Regions from separate parts of the Homo sapiens genome. Here region 1 is linked to region 2. Evidence: fine-mapped expression QTL. Tissue or cell type: skeletal muscle. Region 2 holds a variant in brackets; the other region holds the start of a gene. All regions are shown on one strand. Distances are from middle to middle.

Evidence for each region. PIP is the estimated chance that this variant, and not a neighbour inherited with it, causes the effect.
Region 1: it holds the start of CKAP2-DT, and the variant in region 2 is fine-mapped to the expression of CKAP2-DT in skeletal muscle (GTEx, PIP above 0.99).

What each region holds. Positions count from the first base shown.
Region 1 is chr13:52,451,724-52,459,830 of GRCh38, reverse strand. CKAP2-DT (CKAP2 divergent transcript) reads left to right here and starts at 4,485. Exons shown (of 1, transcript NR_185890.1): 1 at 4,485-5,056. It overlaps CKAP2 (cytoskeleton associated protein 2), which reads right to left and starts at 4,353. Exons shown (of 9, transcript NM_018204.5): 1 at 4,205-4,353; 2 at 3,224-3,308. The coding sequence starts at 4,274. RefSeq lists enhancers at 4,653-4,732, 5,023-5,202.
Region 2 is chr13:52,603,183-52,611,289 of GRCh38, reverse strand. No RefSeq gene overlaps it. Among named protein-coding and RNA genes, the nearest start is that of LINC00345, 6.9 kb to the right of the region's middle. The variant T/C (reference allele first, on the strand shown) is at 3,922.

The sequences.
Region 1 (8,107 bases), 150 kb after region 2:
CAAGAAACTGACTTAACTTATTTTTACAGCTATAAACTGGCTAAGGCAGACTGTGAGCATCTCTTAGCAAGTGATTTTAACAATTTTGTGTACTATAACGATAGGAAAAAATACGGTCAATTAGACATGCCATTGATTTTAAGACAGATCCTAAGTTCAGAGATCACATTAAAATGCGTGATCTCTCATTCTCTGAAAAAAAAAATGAGGCCAGGAACAGTGGGTCACACCTGTAATCCTAGCACTCTGGGTAGAGAAGGTGGGCAGATCACCTCAGGTCAGGAGTTTGAGACCAGCCTGGCCAACACGGCGAAACCCTGTCTCTACTAAAATCAAAAATATTGGCCAGGCATGGTGGCAAATGCTTGTAATCCCAGCTACCCTGGAGGCTGAGGCAGGAGAATCGCTTGAACCCACGAGGCAGAGGTTGCAGTGAGCTGAGATCGCGCCACTGCACTATAGCCTAGGCGACAGAGCAAGGCTCCGTCTCAAAAAAACAAAACAAAACAAAATATATATATATATATTTTACATTTGACATAATTTAGTAGTTAATAATTTTGCTTACATTGCCTTTCATATCTATTTGTTCTGTCAGCTTGGAGAAGGAACAGAACTTTGACACAACCTGTACTATACATTTTGAACAATGGTGAAGGAAGATCAAAATGTGCCACTTAACAGGGTATCTTAGTAGCTAACTGCCAGCTAACAAAACAAAACTCAGGATGACAAGAAGAACCCATCTTACTCACCTGTCCAGTGGGGAGACTTAATCCTATTCTGTCTTATTATAAAACTGCCCTCAGAAGGGTTATCGGAAATGAGTCTTAGGATATCTATACTTTAGAGATTGTAAAATATAACTGTTTAATTCTGAAAAGCTGCAACACAGGTTGGTTGTCTTATTTAATGATTCACTGCTGAGGTGATAACATTTAAATTGACATCTGTTTTCCTTTTTTTTTTTTTTGAGACAAAGTCTCGCTCTTGTCACCCAGGCTGGAGTGCGATGGCCTGATCTTGGCTCACTGCAACCTCCGCCTCCCAGGTTCAAGCGATTCTTCTGCCTCGGCCCTCCCCGGAATTACAGGCGCCTGACACCACACCCGGCTAATTTTTATATTTTTAGTAGAGACGGGGTTTCACCATGTTGGCCAGGCTGGTCTAGAACTCTTGACCTCAAGTGATACACCCGCCTCAGCCTCCCAAAGTGCTGGGATTACAGGCATGAGCCACTGCACCCAGCCAACATCTGTTTTCTGAAAGGAATAAATGTAGTACTTAAGCCACATGAAGCGTTTTAGAATTTTCTTTTCTTCCTATTAAGAGTATTATAAACCCCTGACCTTGTTGGATTCTTTATTTAAATAAGTGGTTGAGAGTCACTGTCTGAATCCATATTATCTCTACTTATTCCCTAGTAATTTCATTCCATCCTAAGGTTTTTAAGTAAATATCATCTGTATACTAATCAATTCCTGAGTTTATGCTTCCAGCCCCAACCCCTCCCCTGAACTTCAGACACACAATTATTTGGCATATCTGCTTGGATGTCTGGTTGGTACCTCAAACATAGTCAAAACAGAACTCCTAATTCCCCAGCTCCTCCTTCAGGCTTCCTATTTCAGTATACGGTTATCACCATTCATTTACTTATTCAAATAAAAAACCTAGGATCACCTTTTTGTCTTAAACAAAGAAATAAAAGATTTATTTGTGAAGGATAAACTGTTTATTCCAAACTAAAGCAACTTATTAATATAAAGTTAGAAATTATTTTTAAAATTTTAGAATGCCAAACTTACACAAAGTTGCAAAAATATAAACAGGTCAAAGAATATCTGTACACTCTTTACCCAGGATCCACCTATTGTTAAAATTTTTATCCCATTTGCGTTATCATTTCCACTCTCTGAATATGTGTGTGGGTGGTATATACAATTTTGTTTACCTGAGACAATTTTTTTTTTTTTTGAGACGGAGTCTCGCTCTGTCACCCAGGCTGGAGTGCAATGGCACGATCTCGGCTCACTGCAACCTCCATCTCCCAGGTTCAAGCGATTCTCCTGCCTCAGCCTCCCCAGTAGCTGGGATTACAAGCACCCACCACCATGCCTGGCTAATTTTTTGTATTTTTAGTAGAGACGGGGTTTCACTGTGTTAGCCAGGCTGGTCTTGATCTCCTGACCTCGTGATCTGCCCACCTCAGCCTCCTAAAGTGCTGGGATTACAGGTGTAAGCCACAGCACCCAGCCTAAGCCTGTAAGGATGTTATTACTGGTTATCCCTAGAGAGTGAGGGGACCTTTTGCCTTTCTGCTTCATCTACTTTCATGGGTTTTTGTTTTTGCTACAGCTATGTACTATCTAAGATATTTTAACAAAATAATAAAGATATTTCTGTGGAGGGTTGAGACTACAACTAGTAATCTCTAAGCATTTGGGAGGGCCACCCAACCCTTCCCTGATGAACTCCCCCATACACTGAGTAAAAAGCTTTGCTAAATAATAGAAAGACTGACCTTTGTGTGGTGTAAACAGTAAGTTGATAATCTAGTCTATGCACATACTTTGCTTTATAATTGTTTTTTTCTCTTAGACTGTGAATTAATTTACGTAGAAAACGATAATCTAGGCCGGGCGCGGTGGCTCATCCTTGTAATCACAGCACTTTCAGAGGCTGAGGTGGGCGGATCTCAAGGTCAGGAGTCCAAGACCAGCCCGGCCAACATAGTGAAACCCGGTCTCTGTTTAAAATACAAAAATTAGCAGGGAATGGTGGCACTTGCCTGTAGTCAGTCCCAGGTATTTGGGAAGCTGAGGCAGGAGATTCACTTGAACCCAGAAGGTGGAGGCTGCAGTGAGCCAAGATCACGCTACTGCACTCCAACCTGGCAACAGAGTGAGACTCTGTCTCAAAAAAAAAAAAATTAATAAAACGATGATCTAATGCTGCACCATCCAATAAAGTAGCCACTAGCCAATGTGGCTACTGAGTGCTTGAAATGTGGATAGACCAAATGGAAATGTCCTGTAACTGTAAAATAGACACCAGATTTTAAAGACGTTGTACCACAAAAAGACGTAAAATAATATGTAAGCAGTTTTTCTAAATGTGGCTACTAGAAAATTTAAAATTACAGATATGGCTTACTTTACATTTTCATTGGACAGATCTGATACAATTTTACAGAAGTGAAAAGAAATAAACTTGACCTTACCTGGATAACATCTCATTTTCCTGCTTGTATGCAAAAAGCGTTTTTCTTCTCAACAGATGTTCCTTGAGTTTTTGTCTTCTTTGCTCTAGATAACAAAGGTAAGAGCTACAAGTCAATATTAGTTAAAACATCGATAACGGCAAATAAATCTTGTTGACTAAATGAAGAGTTTACTTCCAAAGCTGGTTCCACCTGAGGTCACATCTATATAACAGAAAATTCTCCAATTCAATATTGCCTTTGAGAAATCACCTTAGAAGAGACTGTTACCACAACAGGTCCCCAAAACCCCTCTGCATAAGAATCACATTCTCTACTCCCTGTGAAAAATCTGGAGAACATCATTTTCTACATACAGCTCCTGCTAGCCAAGCTTTAAGAAACTAAATGGTAGAAGTGAGGCACTAGACTCGAAAGTTCTAATTTACCAGAACTGGGTTAGATGAGAATTACTTTCTTCTGCTTTCCCGTGTGTAGAATAAGGGAATAACAATATTAGTTTTGAAGACCCAACCAACCCTCGGTTTCCATAAAGTCGAAGGAGAAGCTGTGAAATTGGAAATAACACATGATGCGACCCCAGCCCTGCAGAAATTCGCTAGGGACCTAAGAGGCGGAGGACCCAGCGCAGGCGCAGTCGGTCCCTGAACCTGTGCAGCCCCGCCCCCAAGCGGACCCAGGGTCTCCGACACCGACCCCGGCCTGAGGCCCGCGCGTTTCCCCTCGCCTAACGGATTCCTTCTTAGGAGGGCCCATCCCAGCCAGCAGCGACCGCACAGTAACACCACGCAGCGGTTCCTGTTTTTATGATCCGTTCCACAAGGCCAAGAATGAGGCAGGGCGAGGCCGACGCCGCGTTCAGGGATCTCACAGAGCGGGGGAGAGGTGAAGCGCGCCAGCGCGGCCCCGAGCCCCGACCGCCGGGCCCGCGCCCGCCACCGCCACCGCCACCGCCACCGCCACCGCCACCGCGGCCTTCACCTTTGAATGCGGACTGCGCCCTCTGACTCGGGGGCAGCTGCAGGTCCTGGGGCACGGCCGGTGTGCTCATCGTAGCCTCGGGTCGGGGGATGCGTCTCCGCTTTAGCGCCAAGATAGAACTTCCTCAGACCACCGCCGCCGCAGTCTGCACCGCGGCTAAGCCGTCAGACGGCGCGGCTGCCGTCTCCGCCCATTGGTTCCTGCGTGAATTGAATAAGCCAATGGGCGTAGGGAGGCGGAGCCTGGACTGCAGTTGCCGGGGCCGGTCTGGTGTCTGCCCAGTTCGGTTGGGACTGAGTCTGCAGGTTTCAAACCTAAACAGCGCTCTTCATCCTGGACGTGCGATGGGGGAGGAGTCGGCCTGCTCAGTCCCCACGACATAGCAGGACTAGGTTGACAAACAACCGAGATGGGACACATCTTGAGACCCTCACAGTCCTTGGAGGAAGGCAGACGAGAAAAAGACAAGAAAAGTGTTGATTGGCTGCCCTTCTTATTAAACATCGACGCGTTCACTGACGAGGACGTAAACACCGATCTGGCGTACCACGAGCGTGTGTATTTTCGTTTCACAAATACTGCTTCATTTTGAGCATCAATTCTGAGGTGGGACGTTATCACCACTTTTTCCACTGAGAGGTGACAGGTTCAGAGGTTGTTTGTCCACGTTTGCACAGCGTGTGAAGGGGAACTGAAATTGGGATCTACTTTCCATACCTTTATTCTAAGCAATTATCAAATGCAAAAAAGGGAGGAGAGGAGGAGAAACAGAAAAAAATGAAGATAAACCTCATCCCCTCCTCAAGGTTATATATAATTCTCCTTTGAAGATAAAATAGCATTTGTTACAGACGTTTTGTGTTTGTGTGGTTAAGTGTGCCGCCATAATCTTCGTTTTTCTCATCTAAAAATACCACCTTCATAAAACCCACACAAACACTCAATCCACATGACAGAACGAAACAAGTCAGGGCTAGAAGGTTTTAAGAGTGGCAGTGGGGAAGTGAGGGCGAGTCTGGACTGCACCTGCCTGGTTTCAAGCACTGGGTTTACATTTCTTGCCTGATCACTGCAGTAAGGCTGGACTGGACTCTTTCAGCCAGGTTTTAGGTGCTCCGGGCACACAGACGGGAGGATGTGATTTCCCCGTTTACCCTTCCCAGGTCTGAGGGCCTCCACAGCTGGCCCTCGGCTGTGGTCAGTTTTTCCCACTTCTGCCTGCTTTTTTCTTCAGACATCTTATGGTAGCGTCTTGCTAATGAGGAATTTGGTTTGAGATTTTGTGTAGTTTTTTACTTGATGAAATGTCCCAGTTTTAGTTTAACATTGTCCATCACCATCCTTAAGATATAACTTGCTGTTTAAATACGTCTGTCATTATTGTTGATTATTTACTAAAGTTTCATCAGACAGGTGGGGCAACCAGGGATTTCTATTAAGTGAGAACAAAATACAGCGTTAATAAGTGACTCAAAAACCTCCAAAACATTATGCTAAGTAAAAGAAGTAATATATGAAAAGTTACATATGGTATGATTCCATTTATATGAAAGATCTAAAATAGATACATCCATAGTGAAATAACTCAGAATAGTAGTTGCCAGAGGCTGAGGGTAGGGGGAGAATTGGGAGACAGTTTAATGGACAAGGGTTTCATTACCTTGAAGTAAGTGAAATGTTTTGGAATTAGAGGTAGTGGTTGGGTGACATTGTAAATGTATTAATGCCATTGAGTTGTTCACTTTAAAATGATTAATTTTATGTTATGTGAACCTCAATAATTTTTTATAAGTGGGCATGGTAAAAAAAGAAATTGACTCAAAGGATACCATGGAGATCTCAGTAGGCTGAGATGAATAGGAAAACCTGCCAAACTGCTAGGTTTTTCAAAATGGCAATTCTCCTCTAATCTCCAGACTCACCCACTCCAATGATATGTCTATTTTTGAGACACTTTTTAATATTACTGCTACACAATTATTGCAGAGAAAGCAGACCTTTTTCTAAAAGATCCAAAAAACAAACAAAAAAAACAAAACAAAAAAGATTTCCTTTCAGAACAGTTCTTTGCCAACACAGCTGACCATGAAACTGCAGGCACCTGGAGTACTGATGATTAATTAGTGTTAGTCGTTCCTCCTGTGGTCATGTGAAGAAGGTAAAGTGCCTGTGAGAGAACAGGGAAGGACAATCTGAAAGTTAGGAGGACAATGGGGACACAATGGGGTCACAAAGTCTGGGGAAGAGAGAAGCTGAAGAAAGAGGTAATGGACCACAGTGTTGGGCACTACAGAGGTCCAGTAGGATTGGGACTGAAAGGAACCATCTGATTCAGAAGGTGGGAGGTCCTGGCAAAAACATCCTGGGGATGGCTGGGCGTGGTGGCTCATGCCCGTAATCCCAGCACTTTGGGAGGCCAAGGCGGGTGGATCACCTGAGGTCAGGAGTTCAAGACCAGCTTTGCCAACATGGTGAAACCCTGTCTCTACAAAATATACAAAAGTTAGCCAGGCGTGGTGGCAGGCACCTGTAATCCCAGCTACTCGGGAGGCTGAGGCAGGAGAATCGCTTGAACCCAGGAGTCAGTGGTTGCAGTGAGCCGAGATTGTGCCATTGCACTCCAGCCTGGGCGGCAGAGTGAGACTCTGTCTCAAAAAAAAAAAGCATAGACCTAAATGTAAGAACCAAAACTATGAAGCTTCTAGAAGAAATTATAGGAGAAAATCTTAGTGACTTTGTGTTAGGCAAAGATTTCATAATCAGTATCAATATCTGGTTTGTGGAAAAAAGATTTCTTAAATAGGCAAATTCCATGAACTATGAAAGAAAAAAATACACTGAACTTCATAAAAATTAAAACCTTTTGTCTATTCATTTATTGCCATATATAAGCCACATGACGTTTCTCCTTGCTCCAGCCTGGATACAGGAAACCCTTATACGGTTGTCTATCCCAGCAGCTATCATATGCCAGGCTTCTATTTGTGTCCTACAGACTGTACATCCCTCAAGGGCAGAAAACATACCTTGCAAATGTCCTCACTGCCTAACATGTTGATAATTGCAAAGCCCAGGCATAACTGCACAGTTCCACATCTGATTAGGATGCTTAGGTCACATTACTTTCAATTAAAAAAGACTAAAAAGTTGGTAAACAATCAAATGCTCAAAAATCAGGCAATGATGGTAAATTGTGATATATATTGATAGCATATTACAGCAAATCAAATGTTTTCAAAGAACTTTTGGTTATTGGGTATATGGTCATGATGGAAATTGAAAGATATGAAATACAGAAGACACTGTTTAGAAATAGACCAAAATACACACAGGATTTTGGAACACGGTAAAAGTAGCAATTCATTTCGGGGGAGAGATGGCTTATACTCATTGGAAAGAGCCTTTCCTTTCTTTTAATGCCTAGCCACAGACCACTGACTCCACGACTGGGGGAAATGTGGAGCCCTGGGGGCAGAGAGCAAGCCTGCCCTCTGTCCCTCTGCCCCTGTGCCCCTCTGCCCACGTGGGCACGCAGCCTTAGTTAAGACCCCAATAAGTGGTAGGCTCTCTAAAATGTGTTCACAACCTTTAAAGCAGTCATTCTATTTTAGGAAGACACTGTAAGAAAATAATCCTAAAGAGAAAAATATGTATCAATTGTAGAAGGACATCTATAAGCTGCTCCATTTATTTATTTATTTATTATTTATTATTATTATTTTTGAAGCAGAGTCTCGTTCTGTCGCTCAGACTGGAGTGCAATGGTGCGATCTCGGCTCACTGCAACCTCTACCTCCAGGGTTCAAGCGATTCTCTTGCCTCAGCTTCCCGAGTAGCTGGGATTACAGGCACCCGCCACCACGCCGGGCTAATTTTTTGTATTTTTAGTAGAGACAGGGTTTC
Region 2 (8,107 bases):
TGGATGTGGTATTTCCTTTCTTTTTTCTTAGGTGGATTAAGAGCTGTTTCGTCAGGCCGGGCACGACAAAACAGGGATCACGCCTGTAATCCCAGCACTTTGGGAGGCCGAGGCAGGTAGATCACAAGGTCAGAAGATTGAAACCATCCTGGCTAACATGGTGAAACCCCGTCTCTACTAAAAATACAAAAAATTAGCCGGGCGTGGTGGCAGGCGCCTGTAGTCCCAGCTACTCGGGAGGCTGAGGCAGGAGAATGGCATGAACCCAGGAGGCAGAGCTTGCAGTGAGCCGAGATCACACCAGTGCGCTCCAGCCTGGGCGACAGAGCGAGACTCCATCTCAAAAAAAAAAGAGCTGTTTTGCCTCTGCATCTTCACAACACAGCCTAAAACAGCCTCAAACACAGCCTAAAACAGCACTTTAGGAGGCCAAGGTGGGTGATTACTGGAGCCCAAGAGCTCAAGACTAACCAGGGCAACATGGTGAAACCTCATCTCCACAAAAAATACAAATCAATAAACAAATTAGGTGGGCATGCCGGTGTGTGCTTGCAGTCCCACCTACTCTGGAGGCTGAGGTGGGAGGATTGTTTGAGCCCAGGAGGCAGAGGCTGCAGTGCCACTGCACTTCAGCCTGGGTGACAGAGCAAGAGCCTGTCTCAAAAAAAACAACAACAGCAAAAGATGAACATACGTGCATGTTTATATAATATATAGGTAGATGATATTAGTGTAACTGTATAACACTATGTGAAAAATGAAGCTTTAGTCCCCTTGGAACACACAGGTGAGTATGACTTGTTCCCTGCTTCAAGGGGCTGGTGATCTAGCAGAGATCACAGATGTGGAGCAGGTAAACTAACAAGATAGGCAATGCAACAGGTGCCAGGCCTGTGGAGGCCCAGAGAGGTTGCACCCAGATGGATGAGTTTCCTAGATTTCATTAGCTTCTTCACAAGCGCTTTAGTGCCCAAAGCCAAAGGACAAAGTAAGAGGGAGGAGCATGGAGAGGCCCACAGCAGGAGGACTTACGGGAGATGGGACTGAAGACGAAGTGGTTTCGTGTCCTTCAAATTAGATTGTCTAGGTACTTGTCTTTCCCCTCCACGTAAGATGACTCATTCTTAGTATATTCATGTGTAAAACTGCTTTGGATTTTAGGTACATGGAAGACCAGGATCATGTCACACTAGTGTGTATTGCACAGCATATGACATAGAACTATGTTGAAACAGTGCTTAGCACATGACTTTTGGAGACGACAGAGATATGACCAGGCAGAACTGTCCTCAGGTCAATTTCTAAAGTGCATGAGAGTACTCTGGTTCCCCCAGCCCATCCTCTTGCCTTCTTGTACTCATTCTCCCCCGTCCCTTGGCCCCTCTCTATGTTGCCTTTTAGCTTCTCAGAGCCTCCTTGCTTTGGGTCTCACCCAGACCTGACACCTTTGCCGAGACCTCTCTAAATTAGCCTTTCGTCCCCTCTCCTACCTGTCAAACTGCTCTCTCATCTATCCACCAAGGGGAGGGCTATGTTGTTAAACTAACACTAATGTATGAAAGCCCACATTGCTAGCTAACACTTGTACTATCTCATAAAAGTTAATTTTTAAAAGAGGTGCTTTCAAATTTCAATAAGCAAAGGCTACAGCTGAGATTATTTTCTTTTTGCTTTCCTGGCCTCTGAAGTTATGCTTTCAGGAAACTGCTTTCTGTCTAAGTGTTAACCCAAGCTGGCCCTTAGATGCATTTGTTATGTTCAAGTGCCCTCTGGAGGCAAAAATAGTCTCCTGTTAGATAAAAGACATGCCTGCCAATGACCCACAAATTACTGGCCCCTGTGCTGTGGGGTCCATTCATTCCCGTCTTTGTGCATTCCCAGCACAGCCCTGCCTCAGGGCCTTCAGCTTAGGCATGGAAAATTCTTTGGCCTGGAATAGCTGTCCCAAAGACTGTCCCATGACTGATTCCTTCATACCATCCACTTCAGCTCAGCAGTGCTTTCTCAGCCGTGCACCGCATCTAGCCAAGTCGACCTTCCCATTCTGTCATGTAGCGCTGTTTCCTTGTCTTCCGGCACTCAGCACTATCTGAAATAATCTTCCATTCACTCAACACGTTCATCAAGTGCCTGACCTAGGCCCTGTCTCATGCACTTGGGATAGATCAAGGTACAAATGCAACAAGTTCCCTGCCCTGGCGGAACGTACAGGTCTTGGGAATCACATTGTTTCCTTTTTCATCATCAGCCTCCCCGCTGGAATGTAAGCTCAGTGAGAGTAGGGATCCCTCATCGAGGGGGCAGCCTCATTTACTACCTTATCCCAAGAGCCTGGAACTGTGCCTGGTACATCCTTCATGGTCAATCAATATTTGTGGAATGAATAAACAAATGTTTATATTAGCCAGGCACAATGGCTGAGGTGAGAGGTTAGCTTGAGGCCAGGAGTTGGAGACCAGCCTGAGCAACATAGTGAGACCTCTGTCTCATGAAGAAATTTTTTTAAGTTTATATTTTCTATCAGGATACACAACTAACATTTTAAACTTATTTTGCTGTGACAAAGTTCATTCATTCCATTATCACAAGTCTACAAAATGAGACAAACTGTATACCTCATTATTATTCAAATGATCAATAACAACCATAGTTAGCATTTATTGACCACTAAGTATTAGACACTATAATAGTGCTTTATTTGTATTTTCTCATCTTCACAAAATTTCCTGAGGCAAGTAACACCATTTTTCACTTTTAAGATGAGAAATTTGAGGCTTACAGGAGCTTCTCACTATCACAAAGTCATCAGGTGGGAGAGCCAGCTTTTGAGGACCGGACAGTCGACCCAGAGTCCATGCTGTCAGCCTCCTCCACACAGCTACGTTCACATCAGGAAGTCTGTATTACTCAGCGGCTCCCTCTACCATCCTCTAAAGAAATCCTGCACTCTCTTAGCAGGGCCTGTGAGACCCCTCAAGATCAGCCCTGCCTCCTTCGCTAGTCTCCTTCCCATTACCTCTCCTCCCACCCTGACGGGAGCCCCTGCAGCTCCCAGACACGGCCATGCCTTCCCCCACCTCCTTGCCATCCAATGCTGCGTTTCCTTCTTCCTCCCTGCCTAACTCCTACTCCTACTTCAAGGCTCAGCTCTTGCCCCAAGCTCTAGAACCTTTCCTGGTCCTCTGGGCTGGGTTCTGTGCCCATGCTCTACTGCTCCCAGCCCCCTGTGCCTGGCTTTGTGATTCTCAGTGAACGAAATGAGGTGCGGCTTTTCATCTCCAAATTTCTGGTGCTTAATTGGAACAGAGAGATTGACTAAATACTTTGAATGACAGAGCATTTAAGAATTGGCCATGTTTTACAAATTTAGGCACAGTGAGGCAAACAATCCCATTGTAAATAAGAGGGTTAGTGCTGGGCACGGTGGCTCACACCTGTAATCACAGCACTTTGGGAGGTTTAGATGGGAGGATTGTTTTGAGGCCATGAGTTTGAGAACAGCCTGGTCAATATAGTGAGACCTCCTTCTCTACAAACAAACACACAAACAAAATAATTAAAAATTAGCCAGGCAGGGTGGCACAGGCCTGTGGTCTCAGCTACTTAGGAGGCTGAGGTGGGAGGATCATTTGAGTCTCGGAGCTCAAGGCTGCAGTGAGCTATGGTCACGCCACAGCACTCCAGCCTGGGTGACAGAGCAAGACCTTGTGTCTTAAAAAAATTAAAAAAGGTTAGAATGTGGCCCATGGAAGTCCTCAAAGGTACAATCGCATGAAGCTGAGAAGCAGCAGCATGGAGCAGGGGGTACTCAAAGCATCAACTGGCAGAACCAGATCTTTCCTCTCATTCCCACCCCAAGAGACTTTTCCGATTCATCCAGCTGGAAGCAGAGAGGCTAGGATTTCCCTCTCAGGTGTCTGA[T/C]CCAGAGCTTGCATGCTAATCTCTAAGGCAATGGCATCTCAACTCTGCTGGACCTTTATTTGTGTGTCCTTTCAATGGTTATATTTGCCTGTGTTTGCCCAGAATAACTAATTTAATGAAAGCATTTTAAAAAGATGTTTATAAATGGCTAAATATCTAGTGATAGGTGCCATACAAATATTTAGATACCAACGGTCTAAATCCAGATTATTTTTACTGGGGGAACCATTATTAATGTAATTATAAAATAGTACATTGTGGAAATGTACACACAAGAGAGAAGGAGAGAGAGAAGAGAAAGAGAGAGAAGCTGCATACACTTGCTATTTCACAACAATGATGCAATCCAACAGTTTACAAAGATAATTCCTTTAGACAGATACTGACTAAAACTCACCAGGGGCAGGGCCCTGGGCCCAGCAAGGAGTTAATCACAGCTCCTGGGCCTCAGCAGGGAACACTGAGTAAGATACAGGTACTTGCCCTTGCTGGGCTTGATAGCTCACAACTGTAATCCCAGTGCTTTGGGAGGCCAAAGCAAGAGGATTGCTTGAGACCAGGAGTTCAAGAGCAGCCTGGGCAACATGGCAAAAACCCATCTCTACAGAAAAATACAAAAATTAGCTGGGGGTGGTGGCGCACGCCTGTAGTCCCAGCCATTCAGGACACGGACATGAACCTGGACCCAGGAGTTCGAGGCTGCAGTGAGCTGTGATCATGCCACTGCACTCAGGCCTGGGTGGCACAGCAAGACTCTGTCTCAAAAAAAAAAGTATTTTCCCTTGAGGTTGGAGCCACAAGGACCATGAGTTTAGCAGGGGCTCCTGCTGGCTGCACCAAGCAACTCTCCCAACACTCACTGCTCTCTTCTGCAGAAACAAACTGCTTCCATTTCCCCAAACATGCTCTGCCGGTTCACACCTCTGTGCCTTTGCATGTTTCCTCTGACTGGGATGCTTGGTCCATGCAGAGTGGACATGTGTCATGTTTTTTGGCTGCCTAGCATTGTTTGAAAACCCCGGCTATGTTCTGGGGATTTCCTAACACACGAGTGAGTCCTACCTCTCCAAGGCAGTTGCCAGAGATCCCAGTCAGCCAGGCTTCTATGCAGAGCAGGGTACAGGCACATGACCCAGCCTCCCTCCATCAGCTGCATCTACATGAGATACCAACTTAGAGATAAGCAATCCAAGGCAGTGGACGCAGTGTGTAAGTGATGTACCGGGCAAAGCTGGTAACGCAGGCACACAGCTTTGGAGGAGCAAAGGATACTGGGCTGTGGCCCTGGTATGAGAAGGGGCAGCATCACAAACCATCACATCCAGAGCTCTAGGGGGGCAGCAGCAGTGGTTTCCACTGCAGGCCAGGACTGCAGTGGGCATAGGGCCTTGGTGCAGGAAGCTATTCACGGCATTCCACCTCCCCATCCAGCAAGCAGAAGAGTCACTCTACAACCTTTTAATCCTTTTAATCAATCTCTTCTGTGCTTCTGTTGATTACAACTAAGAGCCTGGCTTAGTTGCAACTCTCCTGGCCCCTGGAGTAGATGATACACCAACTACATTCATCCTCTTAACAAAGGGCCAGATGCCATTTATGTTGGCACAGAGGTCTCCTGTGGGCCTCCCCTGAAACTTCTATTCCATCCCTCATTCATTCCCTCCAGGGATGCCCCCCTACCCACATGCCTCTTGCTGCATACCCACCCCTGAATTATAGTTCCTGGTTTCTTCCTCCTCTGCTTGGACAATGATTTCTGTTCTTTTCTTTTTTTTTTTTTGAGATTGAGTCTCACTCTGTCACCCAGGCTGGAGTGCAGTGGCGCGATCTCAGCTCACTGTAAGCTCTGCCTCCTGGGTGCACGCCATTCTCCTGCCTCAGCCTCCCAAGTAGCTGGGACTACAGGCACCCGCCACCACACCTGGCTAATTTTTTTTGCACTTTTAGTAGAGACGGGGTTTCACTGTGTTAGCCAGGATGGTCTCGATCTCCTGACCTTGTGATCCACCTGCCTTGGCCTCCCAAAGTGCTGGGGATTAGAGGCGTGAGCCACCGCGCCCGGCGACAGTGATTTCTTTGAGGCTAGCCATTGGCTCTTTCACTTCTGCATTTCCAGCAGTTAGTTTGGGTTGACAGCATCCAGCACAGGATAGGTGCTAAAGGGAAGTTTGTCATGGATAGGAAGGGATGCTCCAATTTGGCTTCTGAGAACCAGGAATCAGAAACAGGTGCTCTCGGGTGGCTGCGTCTAACATAGATTTCAGTGAATGGCAGGGATTTCAACAAGCAGAATTGGTTGGGATCATCCTGCCCATATTGACATGTAATTTGCTTTTTAAAAATTATCATAACCCTCAGCGTTTTTCCATAACCTTAATATGCTGTAGGAGACATTCTCAGTTGCCTAACAACACTTCCCTCACCCTTCTTTTTTTCAGGTGTGAGTGGTGATGTTTCAGGGAAGGTGGTCCCTTCCCACAGCCCCAAGGGGATGAGTCCTCATTGCTCTAAACCAGGGATTGACAAACTACAGCCTGCTAACCAAATCTGGCCTACCACCTGTGTTTGTATGGCCTCATACCATACAAAATGCTTTTTACACTTTTAATTCGCTGGAAAAAGAACCAAAAAAAATGCTTTGTAAGAGGTAAAAAATATATGAAATTCAAATTTCAGTGTCCACAGTGACATTGGAACACAGGCATATGTATTTGTTTCCAGTGTCTCTAGCTGCTTTGGCTCTACAAGAGCAGAGCTGACTAGATGTGACATGGACCCCATGCCCTGCAAAGCCTGAAATATTTACTGGCTGGTCCTCTTCAGAAGAACTTTGCTGACCCTATTCTCAAGCGATCATGCTAACACCAGTCTCCTCTGAGTGTTGATTTTTGGGAGGAGTATGAGACCCATTTCTAAGCCAATGAAACACAAGGGGAAGCCTGACAGAGGGCTGCTGGGAAAGATTGTTTTCTCTGATGAGAGGAAGATATGTGAGTGTGCTTCCTTCCTGCCTTTGGATGTTGCATGTGCGGATGTGATAGGCAGAGCTGTGGCAGCCATCTTGCAGTCATGAGGGAAAGGCTAAGAGACTTACAGAGAAGCTTCCCCAGATACTCTTGAGCTGTTAAATTAATCAGCTCTGGAAACTCCTACTTCTAGAATTTTTTAATTCTAGAATTTAAATTTCTAATCAGCAGCCAAGAACATGTAATGGGAACTAAAATTGCATAATCAAAAGGAAGTTTTCTTCTTTCTTGGTTTTTTTTTTTTTTTTTTTCCCAGATGGAGTTTCGCTCTTGTCGCCCAGGCTGGAGTACAATGGAGCGATCTCAGCTCACTGCAACCTTGGCCTCCCAGGTTCAAGCGATTCTCCTGCCTCAGCCTCCCAAGTAGCTGGGATTACAGGCACCCGCCACCATGCCCGGCTAATTTTTTTTTTTGTATTTTTAGTAGAGACGGGGTTTCACCATGTTGGCCAGGCTGGTCTTGAACTCCTGAAATCAGATGATCCACCAGCCTGGGCCTCCCAAAGTGCTGGGATTACAGGCATGAACCCCCGTGCTGGGCCCCTCTTCTTTCTTATTAACTAAAAATACATTTGAGTCAGAGATGTTTTATGCTCTTGATCTATTTGCAACCCCAATTAACTCACTTTGTTAAAACACGCCCCACGTGGTGTCAGGACCAGGGATACATTTTGTGAAATTATTTCTCCTTTTAGTGTCATTAACCAGTGCATTATGGAATTCTGTAGAATAGCAAATGCTCGCTTTTCCATGCAGCCATTCTGTCTGTCCTCTCACCTCTGACCCACATCACACCTGCCACCCATCACAAAGCCAGTTGCATTGAAGTCTCTGACTTGTGCAATCCCCAGTGTAGCAAACAGTCACCTGGAGCAGAGAGGTCAGTGTGTTGACATGTTTGCTGTCTGGAGCCTACATGTAAAATGCTCTTGAGTTGAGCTACCTCTATAGAGAGCAGTGATCCATGTCCCTAAAATGCTGTTCTCAAGAGGCCATAGGATCCCTAGGAAATTACACTCGGAACAAAGTTTGCAAGGACACTTTCTTGATTTAGTGCCAACCAGGTGATTTTGAAATCAGTTCTCTGAGCATCTGAGAGATAGGAAGCATTTTAACATCAGTATCTTCATTTCTCTTCCTAAAATAAAGACAGCAGAAAG